Regions from separate parts of the Homo sapiens genome. Here region 1 is linked to region 2. Evidence: fine-mapped expression QTL. A gene starts in region 2. The other region holds a variant in brackets. All regions are shown on one strand. Distances are between the middles of the regions. Region 1 overlaps RIPOR2 (RHO family interacting cell polarization regulator 2). Region 2 holds the start of RIPOR2 (RHO family interacting cell polarization regulator 2).

The links. PIP is the estimated chance that this variant, and not a neighbour inherited with it, causes the effect.
Region 1: its variant is fine-mapped to the expression of RIPOR2 in whole blood (TOPMed, PIP above 0.99).

What each region holds. Positions count from the first base shown.
Region 1 is chr6:24,805,629-24,815,767 of GRCh38, reverse strand. RIPOR2 (RHO family interacting cell polarization regulator 2) reads left to right here. Exons shown (of 22, transcript NM_001286445.3): 21 at 5,961-6,051; 22 at 9,295-10,139. The coding sequence ends at 9,395. Among named protein-coding and RNA genes, the nearest start is that of ARMH2, 12 kb to the right of the region's middle. The variant AG/G (reference allele first, on the strand shown) is at 4,736.
Region 2 is chr6:24,930,511-24,940,649 of GRCh38, reverse strand. It overlaps RIPOR2 (RHO family interacting cell polarization regulator 2), which reads left to right and starts at 4,690. Exons shown (of 22, transcript NM_001286445.3): 1 at 4,690-4,812. The coding sequence starts at 4,752. LOC105374981 (a long non-coding RNA gene) reads right to left here and starts at 6,675. Exons shown (of 3, transcript XR_007059514.1): 1 at 6,586-6,675; 2 at 6,280-6,404. RefSeq lists an enhancer at 3,808-3,977.

The sequences.
Region 1 (10,139 bases), 120 kb after region 2:
AAGAAACTGCATCAACTAATGAGCAAAATCACCAGCTAACATCATAATGACAGGATCAAATTCACACATAACAATATTAACTTTAAATATAAACGGACTAAATTCTGCAATTAAAAGACACAGACTGGCAAGTTGGATAAAGAGTCAAGACCCATCAGTGTCCTGTATTCAGGAAACCCATCTCACGTGCAGAGACACACATAGGCTCAAAATAAAAGGATGGAGGAAGATCTACCAAGCCAATGGAAAACAAAAAAAGGCAGGGGTTGCAATCCTAGTCTCTGATAAAACAGACTTTAAACCAACAAAGATCAAAAGAGACAAAGAAGGCCATTACATAATGGTAAAGGGATCAATTCAACAAGAGGAGCTAACTATCCTAAATATTTATGCACCCAATACAGGAGCACCCAGATTCATAAAGCAAGTCCTCAGTGACCTACAAAGAGACTTAGACTCCCACACATTAATAATGGGAGACTTTAACACCCCACTGTCAACATTAGACAGATCAACGAGACAGAAAGTCAACAAGGATACCCAGGAATTGAACTCAGCTCTGCACCAAGCAGACCTAATAGACATCTACAGAACTCTCCACCCCAAATCAACAGAATATACATTTTTTTCAGCACCACACCACACCTATTCCAAAATTGACCACATAGTTGGAAGTAAAGCTCTCCTCAGCAAATGTAAAAGAACAGAAATTATAACAAACTATCTCTCAGACCACAGTGCAATCAAACTAGAACTCAGGATTAAGAATCTCACTCAAAGCCGCTCAACTACATGGAAACTGAACAACCTGCTCCTGAATGACTACTGGGTACATAACGAAATGAAGGCAGAAATAAAGATGTTCTTTGAAACCAACGAGAACAAAGACACCACATACCAGAATCTCTGGGACGCATTCAAAGCAGTGTGTAGAGGGAAATTTATAGCACTAAATGCCTACAAGAGAAAGCAGGAAAGATCCAAAATTGACACCCTAACATCACAATTAAAAGAACTAGAAAAGCAAGAGCAAACACATTCAAAAGCTAGCAGAAGGCAAGAAATAACTAAAATCAGAGCAGAACTGAAGGAAATAGAGACACAAAAAACCCTTCAAAAAATCAATGAATCCAGGAGCTGGTTTTTTGAAAGGATCAACAAAATTGATAGACCGCTAGCAAGACTAATAAAGAAAAAAAGAGAGAAGAATCAAATAGACACAATAAAAAATGATAAAGGGGATATCACCACCGATCCCACAGAAATACAAACTACCATCAGAGAATACTACAAACACCTCTACGCAAATAAACTAGAAAATCTAGAAGAAATGGATACATTCCTCGACACATACACTCTCCCAAGACTAAACCAGGAAGAAGTTGAATCTCTGAATAGACCAATAACAGGCTCTGAAATTGTGGCAATAATCAATAGTTTACCAACCAAAAAGAGTCCAGGACCAGATGGATTCACAGCCGAATTCTACCAGAGGTACAAGGAGGAACTGGTACCATTCCTTCTGAAACTATTCCAATCAATAGAAAAAGAGGGAATCCTCCCTAACTCATTTTATGAGGCCAGCATCATTCTGATACCAAAGCCGGGCAGAGACACAACCAAAAAAGAGAATTTTAGACCAATATCCTTGATGAACATTGATGCAAAAATCCTCAATAAAATACTGGCAAACCGAATTCAGCAGCACATCAAAAAGCTTGTCCACCATGATCAAGTGGGCTTCATCCCTGGGATGCAAGGCTGGTTCAATATACGCAAATCAATAAATGTAATCCAGCATATAAACAGAGCCAAAGACAAAAACCACATGATTATCTCAATAGATGCAGAAAAAGCCTTTGACAAAATTCAACAACCCTTCATGCTAAAAACTCTCAATAAATTAGGTATTGATGGGACGTATTTCAAAATAATAAGAGCTATCTATGACAAACCCACAGCCAATATCATACTGAATGGGCAAAAACTGGAAGCATTCCCTTTGAAAACTGGCACAAGACAGGGATGCCCTCTCTCACCACTCCTATTCAACATAGTGTTGGAAGTTCTGGCCAGGGCAATCAGGCAGGAGAAGGAAATAAAGGGTATTCAATTAGGAAAAGAGGAAGTCAAATTGTCCCTGTTTGCAGACGACATGATTGTTTATCTAGAAAACCCCATCGTCTCAGCCCAAAATCTCCTTAAGCTGATAAGCAACTTCAGCAAAGTCTCAGGATACAAAATCAATGTACAAAAATCACAAGCATTCTTATACACCAACAACAGACAAACAGAGAGCCAAATCATGGGTGAACTCCCATTCACAATTGCTTCAAAGAGAATAAAATACCTAGGAATCCAACTTACAAGGGATGTGAAGGACCTCTTCAAGGAGAACTACAAACCACTGCTCAAGGAAATAAAAGAGGATACAAACAAATGGAAGAACATTCCATGCTCATGGGTAGGAAGAATCAATATCGTGAAAATGGCCATACTGCCCAAGGTAATTTACAGATTCAATGCCATCCCCATCAAGCTACCAATGACTTTCTTCACAGAATTGGAAAAAACTACTTTAAAGTTCATATGGAACCAAAAAAGAGCCCGCATTGCCAAGTCAATCCTAAGCCAAAAGAACAAAGCTGGAGGCATCACACTACCTGACTTCAAACTATACTACAAGGCTACAGTAACCAAAACAGCATGGTACTGGTACCAAAACAGAGATATAGATCAATGGAACAGAACAGAGCCCTCAGAAATAATGCCGCATATCTACAACTATCTGATCTTCGACAAACCTGAGAAAAACAAGCAATGGGGAAAGGATTCCCTATTTAATAAATGGTGCTGGGAAAACTGGCTAGCCATATGTAGAAAGCTCAAACTGGATGCCTTCCTTACACCTTATACAAAAATCAATTCAAGATGGATTAAAGATTTAAACGTTAAACCTAAAACCATAAAAACCCTAGAAGAAAACCTAGGCATTACCATTCAGGACATAGGCGTGGGCAAGGACTTCATGTCCAAAACACCAAAAGCAATGGCAACAAAAGACAAAATTGACAAATGGGATCTAATTAAACTAAAGAGCTTCTGCACAGCAAAAGAAACTACCATCAGAGTGAACAGGCAACCTACAACATGGGAGAAAATTTTCGCAACCTACTCATCTGACAAAGGGCTAATATCCAGAATCTACAATGAACTCAAACAAATTTACAAGAAAAAAACAAACAACCCCATCAAAAAGTGGGCGAAGGACATGAACAGACACTTCTCAAAAGAAGACATTTATGCAGCCAAAAAACACATGAAGAAATGCTCATCATCACTGGCCATCAGAGAAATGCAAATCAAAACCACTATGAGATATCATCTCACACCAGTTAGAATGGCAATCATTAAAAAGTCAGGAAACAGGTGCTGGAGAGGATGCGGAGAAATAGGAACACTTTTACACTGTTGGTGGGACTGTAAACTAGTTCATCCATTGTGGAAGTCAGTGTGGCGATTCCTCAGGGATCTAGAACTAGAAATACCATTTGACCCAGCCATCCCATTACTGGGTATATACCCAAATGAGTATAAATCATGCTGCTATAAAGACACATGCACACGTATGTTTATTGCGGCACTATTCACAATAGCAAAGACTTGGAACCAACCCAAATGTCCAACAATGATAGACTGGATTAAGAAAATGTGGCACATATACACCATGGAATACTATGCAGCCATAAAAAATGATGAGTTCATATCCTTTGTAGGGACATGGATGAAAATGGAAACCATCATTCTCAGTAAACTATCGCAAGAACAAAAAACCAAACACCGCATATTCTCACTCATAGGTGGGAATTGAACAATGAGATCACATGGACACAGGAAGGGGAATATCACACTCTGGGGACTGTGGTGGGGTCGGGGGAGGGGGGAGGGATAGCATTGGGAGATATACCTAATGCTAGATGACACATTAGTGGATGCAGCGCACCAGCATGGCACATGTATACATATGTAACTAACCTGCACAATGTGCACATGTACCCTAAAACTTAGAGTATAATTAAAAAAAAAAAAAAGAAAAAAAAAAAAAAAAAAGTACTAAACGAATGGGAACTCCTGACATGGATGTTTCCCTTTCAATGGCAAGATGTAATGTTTGACCTACTTTCATCACAAAAAAATAAGACAAATCAGTCTTGAGAAAAGAATGAGAGAAGGCCAGGTGCAGTGGCTCATGCCTGTAATCCCAGCACTTTGGAAGGCTGAGGCAGGCGTATCACTTGAGGTCAGGAGATCGAGACCAGCCTGGTCAACATGATGAAACCCCGTCTCTACTAAAAATACAAAAAAAATTAGCCAGGCATGGTGGCACACACCTGTAATCCCAGCTACTGGGGAGGCTGAGGCAGGAGAATCGCTTGAATCCAGGAGACAGAGGTTTCAGTGAGCCAAGATTGCACCACTGCACTCCAACCTGGGCGACAGAGACTCCATCTCAAAAAAAAAAAAAAAAAAAAAAAAAAAGAATGAGAGAAGGCCACACCTTAGAACTTGCCAAAATCTTGGAAAAGAGCTGCAGGCCTGATAAAGAAAGGAATTAATACCTCAAAAGAAAAAGTTAATGGCCTGTGATCAAAAACAGCTCTAGGGCCAGGCATGGTGGCTCATGCCTGTAATCCCAGCACTTTGGGAGGCTGAGGCCGGTGGATCACCTGAGGTC[AG/G]GAGTTTGAGACCAGCCTGGCCAACATGGTGAAACCTCATCCTTACTGAAAACACAAAAATTAGCCAGGCGTGGTGGCGCACACCTGTAATCCCAGCTACTCAGGAGGCTGAGGCAGGAGAATCGCTTGAACCCAGGAGACAGAAGTTGCAGTGAGCCAAGATCACGCCACTGTACTCCAGTCTGGGTGACTGAATGAGACTCTGTCTCAAAGAAAAAAAAAGAAACAGCTGTAGGAAATTTTGCCTTGTTACTTGGTTAAAAAAAAAATTACCTTCAGGTGCCCAAATAGAAAGCCCACAGTGATTGCTATTTGGGTGCTTTCCTGATATCCAGTGATATATCAGTGACAGATGTCTGTGATACAGACAAAGTAAATAAAGACATAAGGATACAGTGATCTGCATGGGTTTTCATACTCTGAATCCACTAGACTGTAAATTCTTGAGGACCAGAACCATGTCTGGTTTACTGTGGAATCTCTCATGCCTTATGAATAGTCTGGTTCATGGAGTGCTCAATAAATATTTGTGGAACAAACAAATAGAAGAATTGTCATTAATGGCCTTTACCTCCTCCTCTATTTTAGCATATAAACTAAATAGTAAGAATTTTTTAATTAGAGCCATTTTGGAATCAGTGAGATTCAGTGGAAAGAACCAGGGAAAATGGATTCTACTCTGGAAAAGCAAGCTCGTCACTTCACTCCTCTAGACCAGGAGTGTGCTGTGGAATGAGGAATTTAGCTGATCATCAGAATTCCTGAAAGTAAGAACTCTGGGCCCCATCCCAGGAAATTCTGATATAGTGCATCCGGAGTGGCACCCAGGAATATTGGGTTTCAGACACTCAGCTAGGTTTGACCCCATAGGTAAAGTGGTTTTTAGCATTCCTACCAGCTGGCCGGGCACAGTGGCTTACACCTGTAATCCCACCACATTAGGAGGCCAAGGCAGAAGAATTCGACTAGCCTGGGCAACATAGTGAGACCTCATCTGTACCAAAGGTTAAAAATTAAAAATCAGTCCTGGCTACTCAGGAGGCTGAGGCAGGAGAATTGCTTGAGCCCAGGAGGTCAAGGCTGCAGTGAGCTATGATTGCTCCATTGCACTCCAGCCTGGGCAACAAAGTGAGGCTAAAGTTCCCACCAGTTGTGAAATGCCAAGTCTCGTGGTACTCTAGACCTAAATGTCAAAACACGATTTAACCTATTTTTCCCCCATAGGCTACTGAAAGCATTAAAATGCTGGTGACATTGTGTCAATCTGATACTGAAGAAATCAGAAATGTGGCCTCAGAAACCCTCTTGTCTCTGGGTGAGTTTTATTGTTGTTGTTTACATGATTGTTTGCTTCTGGCACTCTCTAACGGATGTTCCCATTTAGATGTTCCCTTCTCCAGTAAGGAGAAGTTTCATGTACCCTGTTTAGCAGTTTCCCCGCTGTAGGCTGTCTTCTCACACACAGAGTACGAAGAACTGATCAGTGTCTATCTCACCCCAACTCCTTGTTCTGTCTGGATGCTGAGAGTGAACTATATTGTCTGGAGACTTTCTATATGGATTGATCAGTCTGTGTACTATTTAGAATCAAGAACACAGAAGTCAAACCATAAAGCAAAGGCAATAGGAATCCAGGCTGTGTTGCCAGGTGGGGTTGACATTCCCTGGAGGACAGAAATTGGGTGAGGTACCAGAGATGCATCCCAGGGAATGCTGTAAATCCCCAGGTATCTCAGCCTCACCCTGACTCCCAGGTTAACCTCTGACTGCCCTGTGGCCTCTGCCCATCTGAGCCCTGATACCTAAGAAAAGAATTGGAGTACTTATTTTATTCTGAAATATCCAGATAATCCTTCCTCTTCACTTTATTTTATGAAGGTTCATGCCTAGCAGGCATTATACATTTATTCTTTTTTGGGGACTTGGGAGGGTGGGGAAAGCCTTTCTTAACTCTGTATTAAAAAGTATAAATAGCTGGGTTTGGTGGCTCACCCCTGTAACCCCAGCACTTTGGGAGGCCAAGGTGAGTGGATCACTTGAGGTCAAGAGTTCGAGACCAGCCTGGCCAACATGATGAAACCATGTATCTACTAAAAATACAAAAATTAGCCAGGTGTGGTGGGGTGCACCTGTAGTCCCAGCTACTTGGGAGGCTGAGGTAGGAGAATCACTTGAACCCAGGAAACGGAGGTTGCAGTGAGCTGAGATCATGCCACTGTATTCCAGCCTGGGTGACAGAGCAAGACTCTGTCTCAAAAAAAAAAAAAAAGAAAAAAGTATAAATAATTATTATAAATAATTTTACTTCAACAACACAATCTTAAAGTATAAAAACTATGCTCCTAGAAATCCTCAGACATAATCCAATCAATACTGCAGCTTAGAAAAAAGCTACCCTTGTTTAGTGATACTAACTTAACAACATGAAGAAGAATCTCATGGCATTTATAATCACTGTGAAAATCCCATTTATTGTTAGGCCCTCTTTCTTACAATTATGGGTTTAACAAGGCTTCATTCTGCTATTGAATATATGATTTCTTCCACAGAAATCTTAGCCAGTATATATTTGTTTAAAGAATAAAAGTTATTCCTTATGGTTGTATTAGGCATAGAAATTATTTAATTCTCTAAAAATGTACCAAGGTATTATTAGTTTAAACTCCTTTATCCCTTCATATTCTAAAATAACCATGAAGGTAAGCCAGGCGCTTATAAAGCATAGCCAACGAAGCTTCTATTTCCAGTGTAACCTAAGGAAGCTGATCCTACAGAATGTGCCCCGGGCCTCACTGGAGCTGTGCAAACAGCAGCATCTCCAGAAGCCATCACCATACCTGCTTCACCTTAGCTCTTCATGCACACTGCTCATATCAGCCCTGGGCCCTCTCACACCACCAGTGTGCAGTGCTCAACACTGGCTGCACATTTGCCAGGGAAGCTTAAACAATCTACTCCCAAAGATTCTGCTTTCATTGGTCTAAGTGTTCCTTGGCATCAGGATTTTTTAAGGATTTTTTGAAGCCTCCCAGGTGATTCTAATATAAAGTTTGAGACCCCCCTGAAGTCAATATTATGAATCTTCTTTGACCCTAATACACAAATACTGGCACATTTTTCTCTTACACAAATGACTGAATTAATATAGTGAGGATAGTATTTTCAATAGGAATTGATAAAATGCCCTATGACAAAGGGCAGAAGGTCATTGCGGGCACTTAAAGGACTCAGGGCTGCAACTATTTACCAACTAGTATGGAATGATTTCGACATTTTAACCTAGAGCTGTCCAACAGATCCCTCCATGGTGATGGGATTGTTCTATATGCGCACTGTCCAGTATGACAGCAGCCATCCTAAATGGCTGTTGGGCTGTTCACCTTTGCCACCATGGAGGAACTGAAGTTTTAAGTTTACTCAATTTTGAGGATAGCTGCTCCTTGACTTACAATGGGGTTACATCCCAATAAACCCGTTGTAAGTTGAAAATACTGTTAAGTCAAAAATGCACTTAATACATCTTACTTGCAGAACATCATAGCTTAGCCTAGCCTACCTTAAACATGGAGTCTCTCTCTATCACCCAGGCTGGAGTGCAATGATGCAATCTCGTCTCATTGCAACCTCTGCCCCCGAGTTCAAGCAATTCTCCTGCCTCAGCCTCCCAAGTAGCTGGGACTACAGGTGGATTCCACCACACCCAGCTAACTCTTTTTTTGTATTTTTTGGTAGAGATGGGGTTTCACTGTGTTGATCAGGCTGGTCTCAAACTCGTGACCTCAAGTGATCCACTCACCTTGGCTTCCCAAAGTTCTGGGGTTACAGGTGTGAGCCACCACACCCAGCTGAACTTCTGATTAGGCACAACTATTTCCATCTTTGTCTCACTTGCATTACATGTATGAAAGCCTGCTTCTTATCACTTGTCTTTGCATTTTATTTTCTCATTTTCTAAATCATTTTTTAAAGTAGAAAAATAGAACAAAACATTAAAATTATTTGCAATTGCATCCTAACTGTTCAAGGTGGCGTTACGGACAAAACTGAACTAGCTGGTGGCTGGTAGAAGGCATCTCTGTATGTTTACATAGTAAAAAGTAATTTTTAGCTGAAGTTTGAAAGCCTAAGATTGATTTTACCACATATCATTTAGATGTATCGATATATAATGTATACAAGTAAAAGTTATGTAAAAGTTCAGTGCATTAGCCATATTGAAATCCCTAATGTACTTAAAATATAATCCATACAATTGCTCTAAAATAAATCGATTATATGAAATCATCAACATCAAATGGCCATAAGACTTCTACTCTGTTTCATACCCTGGCATTCTTTTGGTCTCTGGCATTAATTAGCTCAAAAGTTCTTGGTTGTTCTAAGCATTACCTGGAAAACAATGACATAATTAGGAATAACAAAAGATAACTTTTCCTTACCAAAAGTTAGCATAGCATATTATAGCAACCCATCCCTAAACAAATGGCACTATGTTACTTTGAGTAATTAATAAAAACGTTGTTTGAATTGGTATTCATGTTTAATGTTCTGTATTTAGGAGAAGATGGGCGGCTGGCATATGAACAATTGGACAAATTTCCTCGAGACTGTGTTAAAGTCGGAGGTCGTCATGGAACTGAAGTTGCCACAGCCTTTTAATTACAGGTTAACTGCCTAACAGCTGTCTTAATATCTGGCCCTTTTCATCAGGATGGTGCTGTGGTTTGGGCTGGAAATTGTTTAGAGCCTGAGAGACACGACAACTGAAATAAAAATGTAGGCCAGGTGCAGTGGCTCATGCCTGTAATCCCAGTACTTTGGGAGGCCAACGCAGGAGAATTGCTTAAGCCCAGGAGGTTCAAGACCAACCTGGGCAACATAGCAAGGCCCTGTCTCTACAAAAAAAATAGTTTAATTAGTCAGGCGTGGTGGCATGCACCTGTAGTCCCAGCTACTTGGGAGGCTAAGGTGGGAGGATTGCTTGAGCCCAGAAGATTCAGGCTGCAGTGAGCCATAATTGCCCCACTGCACTCCAGACTGGGTGACAGAGCAAAACCCTGTCTCAAAAAACAAAACAACAACAACAACTAAAAAAACATGTTATAGAAAGAATTCAGAGTCTCGTTTCACAGTACCTATCTACTTTTCCTTTGGCCAATATAGAATAGGGCTATGGTATAATTCAAATATATTACATCGTCGATTGTGTCTAATAATACTCAGTGAAAGAGTCCATCTTATCTTAATATGTATGAAATTTAAAAATAGCCATCTTTGTACTTTTTTGCAAGTTTCTCTATAAGCTTGAAATAGTCATGTGATACTTCGACAAACATCATATGCCTTGCAGTTTTTCTCGGTCGTGTTCTCAGGGTTGAGTAGTCCCCTTAGCTACCTAACTTT
Region 2 (10,139 bases):
GTATTCCTTTTGTCCCAGCTCTTTAGACATGGCATTTTACAGTTAGACAAATTAGACAAATTTTTAGGTGCATCTTTACTGGCAAAGTTACCCAAAGATAAGATTATTTCTGACTCTGTGGTTTTTTTCACCTTTTTCTTTTCTGATTCCTACCACTCCTCACAGTTTCAATTCCTCTCTCCTACTTTGTTCTCCTTTCTGTTTCGAACATTTTGCTCCTAATTAGTTCAGGTTTTTCTCCCTGTTCAGAAGTTTGTATATCTGAAAATTAAGTATTTTAAAACACTTTCTGAAAGGAGTGGGAAATTCTCCAGAAGCACAGAGAGAAGATTGTGAGGCTCTTCTGTTGGAATAAAAGCCCACGTTGGATGTTGAAATTTTTCCACTAGTATGGTTTCCTCCTGTACACGCTTCACAGGTGGTATTTTTTTTCAAAACAGCAAACTATGCAGAAATATTTTAAATTAATAAATTATTAATTATTATAGCCTCAATTCTCATAACTCAAAATAATAATACTGTGTTGATATTCATATGTTCAACACAACACATGCCTTCTCACTTATATATTTACTTAAATATTTCACACCATACCTGAAATATAGTAGGTATTCATTACTATTCTCCAAATGAATGAAGTGAGTAAAGTTCCACAAAGCAAGGACCAGACCTTTCATATCATTGTAATTCACAGACCTAGTATGGCATAAAGTGGGCACCAACTCTTTGGAGTATAAAAGCTTTGCTATGTTCCTGTGCTTATGACCTTGATGAAATTCTGCTGTTAAATTTAGTACAGGTTGTCACAAATCACCATTTGATCAAAGTAGTTGCCTTATACTGGTTCATCTATACTTTTGTTCTCTTCCCCAAATCCAATTATTGGAGCTGTTTGCCTCAATCACTGAAAAGCAAGATTCTTTCATTGTTGTTTCAGACTTACTCCTCATTTCTTAGTGAAAACTACTCTCTGTGACCTACATCTCCCTTAACTAAGCACTGAATTTCCCTATCTTTAGTCTTTCTTTTCTAATATGGATTCGAAGGGGATCAGAATGTGTCCCCCAAAATATGCTAATTTAGCATAAGTACTATTTTGAGCTATTTTTGAGAAAGAATCTTCTGCCCTTCTCCTTTCTGCTTTAAGTGCCATAAATTTCCACTTGTAAAGGTGTTTTATTTCCCATCTTGGGTGACTAAGCCTCATGGTCCTCTTCCTGATATGAGAGATGAGTCTGCATAACAATCCTTAGCTATCATACATTCCTAGTTACCTTCCCACAATTTGCCACTCTTAGGAGCCCACTCCCCTACTCTGCCTCCTTTGTCTAGTCACTTCTTCACAGTTTATTGCACTTTGTTAAAATTTTATATAAGCTCAGCATTCTTTTAGACTTTACATAGATAAGAGATAGTGTAGCCTGGTGTTTAAGAGTTTGGACTCTGGGATCAAATCTCAGTACCTCTACCACTTACCAAATGTATGACCTTGGGTGGATCACTTCACCTCTTGGGCCTTAAACTAAAATAGAGATAATAAATATATCTATATCTTAGGGTTGATATAGGAATTAAGTGAATCAAAGCACTTAAAACTGTTGCTGGCACTCTGTGTTAGCGATTACCTACATTTTTTTATTTGCTCATTTTGGACACTCATATAAATATAATTATACCATTTATAATTTTCTGAGACCTTTCAAAGTCAATATTATGTTTTTGAAACTCATCCATATTGATGCATGCATATGTAGTTTATTAATTTTTCTTTTTAGTTAACACATCATGCATGTATGTCATATCTCTCTAAGGTAATTGTAAACTTTGGAGAGCAAGAACCATGTTTTCTATCCTCTGTGCTTTCAAGGAGTTCGTGGTAGCATTTGTGATTTGTTCTTTGAGATGATTAGCTGTGTTTCTGAGATATCTAAATTGGAGAAGAGGAGACTGAGGGAAACTTCCTAAGGGTTATTGAGGTTTTATATGGAGTGTGGTGACTTCTCATTCTCTATCCCCATTGAGCCTTCAATTTGGGAAATATCCTAAGCGTCCCTGTGAGAGACTTAGGCGTATAATTATAACTGGGTATTTACTGTGTACCATGTACTGTGTCAGCTTCTTTACATAAATTATCCTACTTAATCCTCAAAACAAGCCAAATGAGAAAGTATATTATTTTCTAGGACTTCTGTAATGAAGTACCACAAACTGGGTGGCTTAAGCAACAGAAACTTACTGCATCACAGCTGTGGAGGCTAGAAGTCCAAGGTCAAGGTGTTGGCAGGATTGGTTCTTCTGAGGGATGTGAGGGAGAATCTCTTGCAGGCCTCTCCCCTAGCTCATGGTGGTTTACTGGCAGTCTTTGGTGTTCCTTGGCTTGTGGATCTCTGCCTTCATCTTCACATACTATCCTCCCTATGTCTATGTCTTTGTCTAAATCTCTCCTTTTTATGAGGAAGTTAGTCATATTGGATTAAGGACCCATCCTCCTCCAATATGATATAAGTTCATCCTAACTAATTATATCTTCAATGGCCCTGTTTCTAAGTAAGGTCACATTCTGAGGTACTGGGGGTTAGGACTTCAACATATGAATTCAACAGGGGAGACACAATTCCACCCACTTAAAATGAAACAGGCCTACAGAGGTTATGCTAACTTTTTGAAGTGGAATAGCTAGGGCCCTCAGGTTCACGTGGTAACCAGGTAGTTCTGAGGTGGGAGGTGAGGGAGGTAGTGCAGGTCCCCAAGAGCCACGGGGATGCTGCAGTGAACTGGACTGTGTGCAGTCACTCCCATAAGTTGTCCAGACATGAGGTAACAGAGTGAGCTCTGGAATTAGTCAAATCTGCCACTCACTAGCTGCCTGATCTTAGGAATGTTTTTCAAGCCCTCAGAGCCCCCATTGCTTCATCTGTAAAATGGGATAATAGCACCCACCTCATGAAGTTGTGGAGATTAAAGGACATAGGACAGTAGTTGAGAAATGTAGTGATTATCAAAATGGACACCCATCCTCTTATCCCAACCACACAAAAGAGAGCTTTAGTCCACATCCAAATTTCCTACACCTAGGCCCATTTTAATTAATTTAATTTATGTAACTAAGTGCAACCCTTGTCCAGAAACATCATTCAAGTGGGGATCATGGTAGGGGGTGGTAAAAGGGTCAGAAAGGGGAGATGCAAAGGAGAGCTAGAGAAAAGGATAACTCCAGTTCTCTGCCTGTCAGTGTGTCTCAAGGTGGGCATTATTGGTATTTGGAGCTGGACAGTTCTTCCTGTTGAGCTACTGTTCCATGCATTATGGTAAGGTTGATATCCCTGGGCCCCTGAGTGCTAAGACATTAAATACCAGTAATAACCCCCAGTCATTGTGCCACCCAAAACACCCCAGACATTTCCAAGCTCTCCTCTAAGGATGGTTCCAGCCCTGATTGACAACAATTGGTGATCCCAGCAGGACCCAAGCTGTACACTGTCTTTGGGAACTGCTGCAGCCACCAATGCAGGGATGAACTGACTGTTGCTGCTCAGTTAACCCTCAGTGTCTGATTCCTGAATTCCTCTGGGGTGATCCCTTCTCACTGCTGGATTTCTCCAACCCTGTTGTCCACAGTCTCTTCTGGGAGAAAATGGTGCAATTTCAAGGTTGCAGTTACAGGAGGAGGGGACAGTTTCTCTAGGGTAACACTGGGAGTATCTTCAAAACCATGCAGTAAATAAAGTGCCAAAAATAAACACCTTGGGTCAACAGCTCCTCACTGTCATCTCCATTTGCATTTTCTAAGCTTCTGGCCACCTAAGAGATCTTACAACACAGTGGAGTGCTCTGGGAAACCCCGAAATGAAGTCTCAGTATTACTCAGAGAGATGTGTGTTTGTTTGTGCAGCCAGACAGAATTTGGCACACGTTGGGTAGCTCGATATGGTGATGCCAGCCAATGGTGCTCGCGTAGAAGCTCAGTGTTCACTCATCCCTTTGGGAGGACTGCTTTTTGAGTTACATTTTCTTCTTTCTCCTTTAGTGATACAGTCTGAAGTATCAAACTGAGTAAATATTGTGAAATGCAAGATGTTTGACCAAAACCAGTTATCTATTCATTGACTATAGATTTAATCGAGCCACATAAAGCCTAGATATGGTTCAGTTTGGTTTAAATGCTGTAAAGTTTCCAATCCTTAAATGCAAGAGGTTTGAAAAAAAGAAAAGAAAAGAAAAGAAAAATGCAACTATTACTGAGCAAAATAAAAGCTCTGTCCTCTAAATGCCTGCTTTGGTTTAACATAGTGGCTTGCTTTACTTTCAGATAAATTGTAATTGAAGCAAAACCAAGATATGAGAAATATGAACTCCCTCTTTCAACAAAACCCATTGTGTTCAAATTCATAAGCAAGAAAGTTAAGCACCCACCTTCCTCTTTAAGGAAATATGAAAGTTGTTGCTTTGAAATAGAATTCATTGCATTCAGACTTTGAGTGATATCTGTATTCATATCCAACCGGATCTGCAGCCCTCTTCAAAAAATTCTTTCTCCTCAGTGGTGAGAATTACCCCACCTGGGATTCACTCTTCACAAGGCTCAAGAAGCCTATTCATATGAATGAAACTGCTTTCTTCAGGGCAGATGCGGAAGCTGCCCTCCAGAGGGCTTGGGCAACCCAAGGAAAGGAAATCACCTCGGTCGGCAGTGTGACTGCTGAGACTGCCGGGGCTGCTGCCTGCTGCTTCTCGCGCCTGTCCTCTCCAAGATGCAGTTTTTTGATGCTGAGGAGCTCCTGGTCGATGAAGAGGATGATGTTTTTGGTGAAGGTAAATGCATCTTTCTGGCAGGAGGCTCTCCGGTCTGCTTTGCTTTGTTTTGACACCACTGGACACTTTTGCCCAGCTTGGGCAAGGACTTGAGTATTTTGAAATGATAAAAACAAAGCATCCTGAGTGAGGTAGTGGCTGCAAATATCAACTTAGGCACTGAAGGAATACACAAGGCAAGGGGTGGAACAAGGGGTTGAGTCATTCCCGCAAATACATTTTTTAAAGTCATGACTAAAATAAAGGTTTAGTTTAGGCTGGAAAATAGTACTAAATTTTTTGCCTTGTCTCTCTTCTGTGCTATCTCTTGTCTAACACCTTAAGGAAAGCCTGTCACAGTGGTTTGAGCACAGCAGGGCTGCTAGGGAAGAAGTTAAATAAATGGACCAGGAGTGGTTTTTCATGGTACCATGTTGCTTTGATTTGCACTTCTCTCTTTCTGTCTCTCTCTCTCTCTGTCTCTCTCTCTCTGTCTATCTTTCTCTCGGTCCTTCTCTTTTTTTTTTTTTTTTTTTTTGTTGTTGTTTTTTGAGACAGAGTCTTGCTTTGTTGCTCAGGCTGGAGTGCAGTGGTGCAATCTCAGCTCACTGCAACCTCCGTCTCCCGGGTTCAAGTCATTCTCCTGCCTCAGCCTCCCAAGTAGCTGGGACTACAGGCGCCCACCACCATGCCCAGCTAATTTTTGTATTTTTAGTAGAGATGGGATTTTGCCATGTTGGCCAGGCTGGTCTTGAAATCCTGACTTCAGGTGATCCACCCTCCTTGGCCCCCCAAAGTGCTGGGATTACAGGCGTGAGCTACCATGCCCGGCCTGGGTCCTTCTCTCTTACTCTTCCTCACACATACTTGGCACTCCAACCCTCCATTCCCTTTTCCAATTTTCTTTTTTCCCAAGTCGGGATACTGGAGCCCTGGTAGCTTCCAATCCCCATTGGCACTGCTCAGTTTTCTGTTCTCATCTTGCAGCTTTTCCATGACTTGACCTATCCACTGGAATTTAACTGTAAAGGTTGCGATTTTAAAGGGATGATCTAGTCATTGGATGGATGTTTTGTTCAAATGCTGCCTATGAGATTGGGCTATAGGCAAAAGCTTTTTTAGAATTTGGAGCCACCTAAATAAAGGAAATTTGGACTCAAGAATCTCGTGAATTTGATTATTTTCCGCAAGAAACTACGTCTAGCAATTTTTTAAAAAACTCTATTCAGTAATTTTTTAAAAGGAACAGTAGTAAGGTTTTTGTGTATGTGTAATTACCCAAGCAATACAAGTTCGCTGAAGAAAAATTAGAGTGTCGCAAAGAACCCCTTGTAATCTAGTCATGTAGAATGTAATCATGGTTAATATTTTGATGTTGTCTTTCTGCTATGTTGTTCTAGCTACAGAAATATTTAAAATCATTAGTTGGGTTTTTATCACAACTTAAATCAATTTGAAGAATATCTATTGAGCTTCGCTGCTGTTTACCAAGTTATCATTCTGTTGTGTTACTTTGATGGCAGGCGTTTAGGCCACCAACACCTTGAAGTTTGATCTTAGGCCCCATTCTTCAGCTTTCACTTCTTAAAGATGTTTCCTCTTTAAGCAAACACCTTAAAGAGAAAATTTATACTTAGATACTAACTCTTTTGAGGACCTGAAAAATGCTCACAACTATGAAGATAAGCTTAGAACGGAAAAATTGGCAATCATTCACCCACACCTCCCTCCAGGAATGGCATTCCAAAACGCCCAGCCCACATTTCTTTGCCTATAGGAATTTTGCTCTTTTACATCTGGCTATGATACTTAAGAGCGCCCTCTATAGGCTGATGCACTGCACTCTGGATTATGCGTGGCCCCATCCTGAAGGGAAGCGTTAAGACCAAGCAGGGCTGGATGAACCTGTGTGTTCTCTCTCCTGAGCATTCATCATTTCCAAGGTGATTATTGTAACCTCACTAACCATGTTGTAGTGGAATGGCTGAGGTCCCCAGGTTCCAGGTAGCTAGGTAACCAGCTAGCTCTGAGGTGGGAAGTGAGGGAGGTAGTGCAGGTTGATAAGTTGGGAGTCAAACGAGATTCAGACTCAGATTCTGGTTCTGCTTCGTGGTACCCATACAAGCTAACTTTGGTCTCCTCAATGGTGAAGTGGGACAGTAATACCTATCGGTTGTACAGATTATCTTCATAGTAGATGCATAATGTTTGCGTTGCACTTCAATGTGGTATGCTTTATCTTTTCCAAACTGATTATCTCATTTAACTTAATCCCTAAAGATTAAAGAGAAAATCCTTGCAAGGCCAACATCCAGTGTATTTTTATTCAGTTTTCAGAGCCGTGGCTCATGTTTGGCAATTTATGTGAAAGCATGTCCAGCTGCTGCCTCATTTTAAGCAAGCTCTGTGTGGGGTAACAGTCAAAAGCTTCAGCTCTGGAATTGCACGGTCTAGGCTTTGCCAACCAATTCACTTATGACCTTAAGCAGGTTACCTAATCTCTCTGTGCCTCAGTTTACTCACTTATAAAATGGAGTCCAAACCTCATATGGCTGTGTGTGGCTTAAGTGTTATGATAGGGAAAGCTTTTAGAATAGTGGTCAGTACTTAATACATATGAATCCCTATTGTCTATTTACAAAAATGGGTTTATAGAATAGTGACCATTTTTTCACGTCTGGTTAACCTCAGATTCAAAATAGGACTTATTTACAGAACTTCAGTTTATAAATAACTTTTCAGAGGTTTAACGTGGCAGATATAGCACTGAACAAGTTGTTAGGAGTCTGAGTTGTAGCCTTGCCCCTGCTGTGGTATAGCTGGAGGATCTTGGGCAAGTCATTTATCTTCTTTGAGCCTCATTCTTCTTCTGAAACAAGGGGACTGATTACACATTCTCTGAGCATTCTACTACCCAGTCTCCAGTCTTTACTTCAAAATGATGTATCTACCTGTAAAAGTTCATGCTTGTTCTAGGATTCACGCATACTTTCAGCTCACTTAACATGCCTAAGCAGAAAGCTTTTGGCACAATGAGTTTTCCGTAACATAAAAAAAGGAAAATGCCCAGAAGCTTGTTATTAGGGCAACTATATTTCCTTGCAATTGACACATTTTTAAGATCCCTTTCTCCTAGAGGTTACACAGATTTAGAATTTAGGTGCATTTGCTTAAAAGTATATATAAATCCATTTAGATATATGGACACTATAAAGATCTGGGAAGAAAAAAAATGAGTCAATGAGTCATCCTCACAATGTATTTTTTAAACTGCCTTTCTGAGATCCTGTTTGCTTCAGCAATTGTTTTTTGTGGTTAAAGGAAATGTTAAGGTTCACAGAACTTCGGAGCATTGGTGTGTAACTGCTCTTGTTCTAAAACAGGTTGCATATAGTGAGAGAGAAAGAGAAAGAGAGACAGAAAGAAAAGGGATTCACCTACACACTGCAAATCCCAATGTCTGTTCTCTCTCTGTCTCTCCATCTGTTTCTTCTCTCTCTTTTTCTCTCTCTCATACACACACACACACACACACACACACACAGTCTTAAGTTTGCTTTCCTAACAACATCATCACGTCATTTAGAAAATGGTTACTCTCAAGTAGGCTTAATCTTTCCTGGAGAAATGATTCATTTGATTATCAAGGTAGTGAAAAACCAGTAGTTAGCCTTACAGACTCTTTTCCCATTGTTCTTTCAAACTTATCAAATTAAAGGGCTTTCATCTGTTTTGTCACTGTGTGATCTTGACAGCCAGTCTGGTCAGTGTTAGTGGAAATAACTGGATGGGTAATAATGGTAATGACTACAACAATGCTGCTGCTGCTGATGATGATGATGACAATGATGATGACAATTGAAAAAAGGAAAAAAGAAGGGCCATGCACAGTGTAGGTTCCTATCCTGCTTTCAAGAACAGAACAGAATTCACGTGTGGGAGCAAACGGCTCACCAGGTGGTGGTCAGTGAGTATTTTAGCAGCCAAAATTACTCCTTGGCACAAGTTAAAGCTGCAATTGCTTCTTTCCTTAGAAACGCAACCCGCCCCGCCTCCATTTTCAGCACTGCTCAGTAATCTTTTGTCAGGTGCAATGATTAGAATAATAAAACACCCCAAGTTCACAGTAAGTGTGCAAAGTATTTCTCAGGTTCTTGTATTTCCTGGACACTTACATGCCTTTTAAGATTATGCTTGAAGATCACAAGAAACTACAAAGCATTTGTCAGATTTTCAAATGTCCCCCAGAGCTGGTAGAGTGCAACTGAGCATGAGAATACTTCTGTCCTGGATAACTGTGTCTGAGAAAGTTGTTTCAACCTCCACAAAGGAGGGGAACTCTCCCAGATGGAGATGAACTGGCAAAAGGAAGTCCATTCAACCATTAGCTGCCTGTTGCTCTTAAGGAGACTAACAGCTGGTTGGAAAAAAATTGGCAGTCACTTTTGAACCAAGCCTCTCTCCTTTCTCCAAGCCAAGTAAGTTAGCACTTTTTCCTTTTCAAAGGGAACTTCAGGTCAGAGGGAGCAAGAAGACTACAAAACACTTAACACACACACACACACAAAAAGAATTGTAATTAGGATAAATACCTATTTTTTTTGTCTTTCCATGTAGGCTGTTTACAAAACCAAGGTAGTATTTTTCTTTTAATAGGTAAATAATTATGCAATCTGGTATAATCTGGAATATTTTGATATTGTTTCCTGAATTGTATTTGCTCCTTCCAAAATTAATAGAAAGAAGAAAGGGGAAAAAAGCAATTAAATTCATATTATGTACAAAACTAGTAAATGTTGAAAGTTCAGACTGGTTAAGTCATACCCTCCATGGAAAAAGTAAGAGAAATCAAATGTAAAAGTATATGAGCCTTGGCTAGAGAGGATTGGAGATTTTTGTGTGATTATGCCACATTTTATAACATAAATAAATACAAGCATTGCTATTTAACTATGCTGAATCTTTCTCAAGAAATATCTGGGTTTCTCAAGTGGACCCAATAACGGGATTGGAAAAGGGGCAGAAAGAGGCTGCCCTAGTTTCCTGGGTTGAAAAGAATTGGTCACTCTTTGCTTTCACAATTTGCCAAGATTGCTTGGATCAATTTCCACCCCCGAATTCCTGGATAAATGCTTTAGTTGGAAGTCACTTTCCCTACTTTATTTGTCCCAGGGTCTGGAGCAGACAAAGACCTCCCCACAGTAATTCATGCTTGTGTGACCTCTGCCTTGGATTACTGCAAAACATTCTCTTCCCATAGATGTCTAGGAAGCTTTCTTTGGCTGGTGCCAAAGAGATGGTGTCATTGCAGGGGCATAAACTAAAATAGCACATTGCACTAAAGCTAT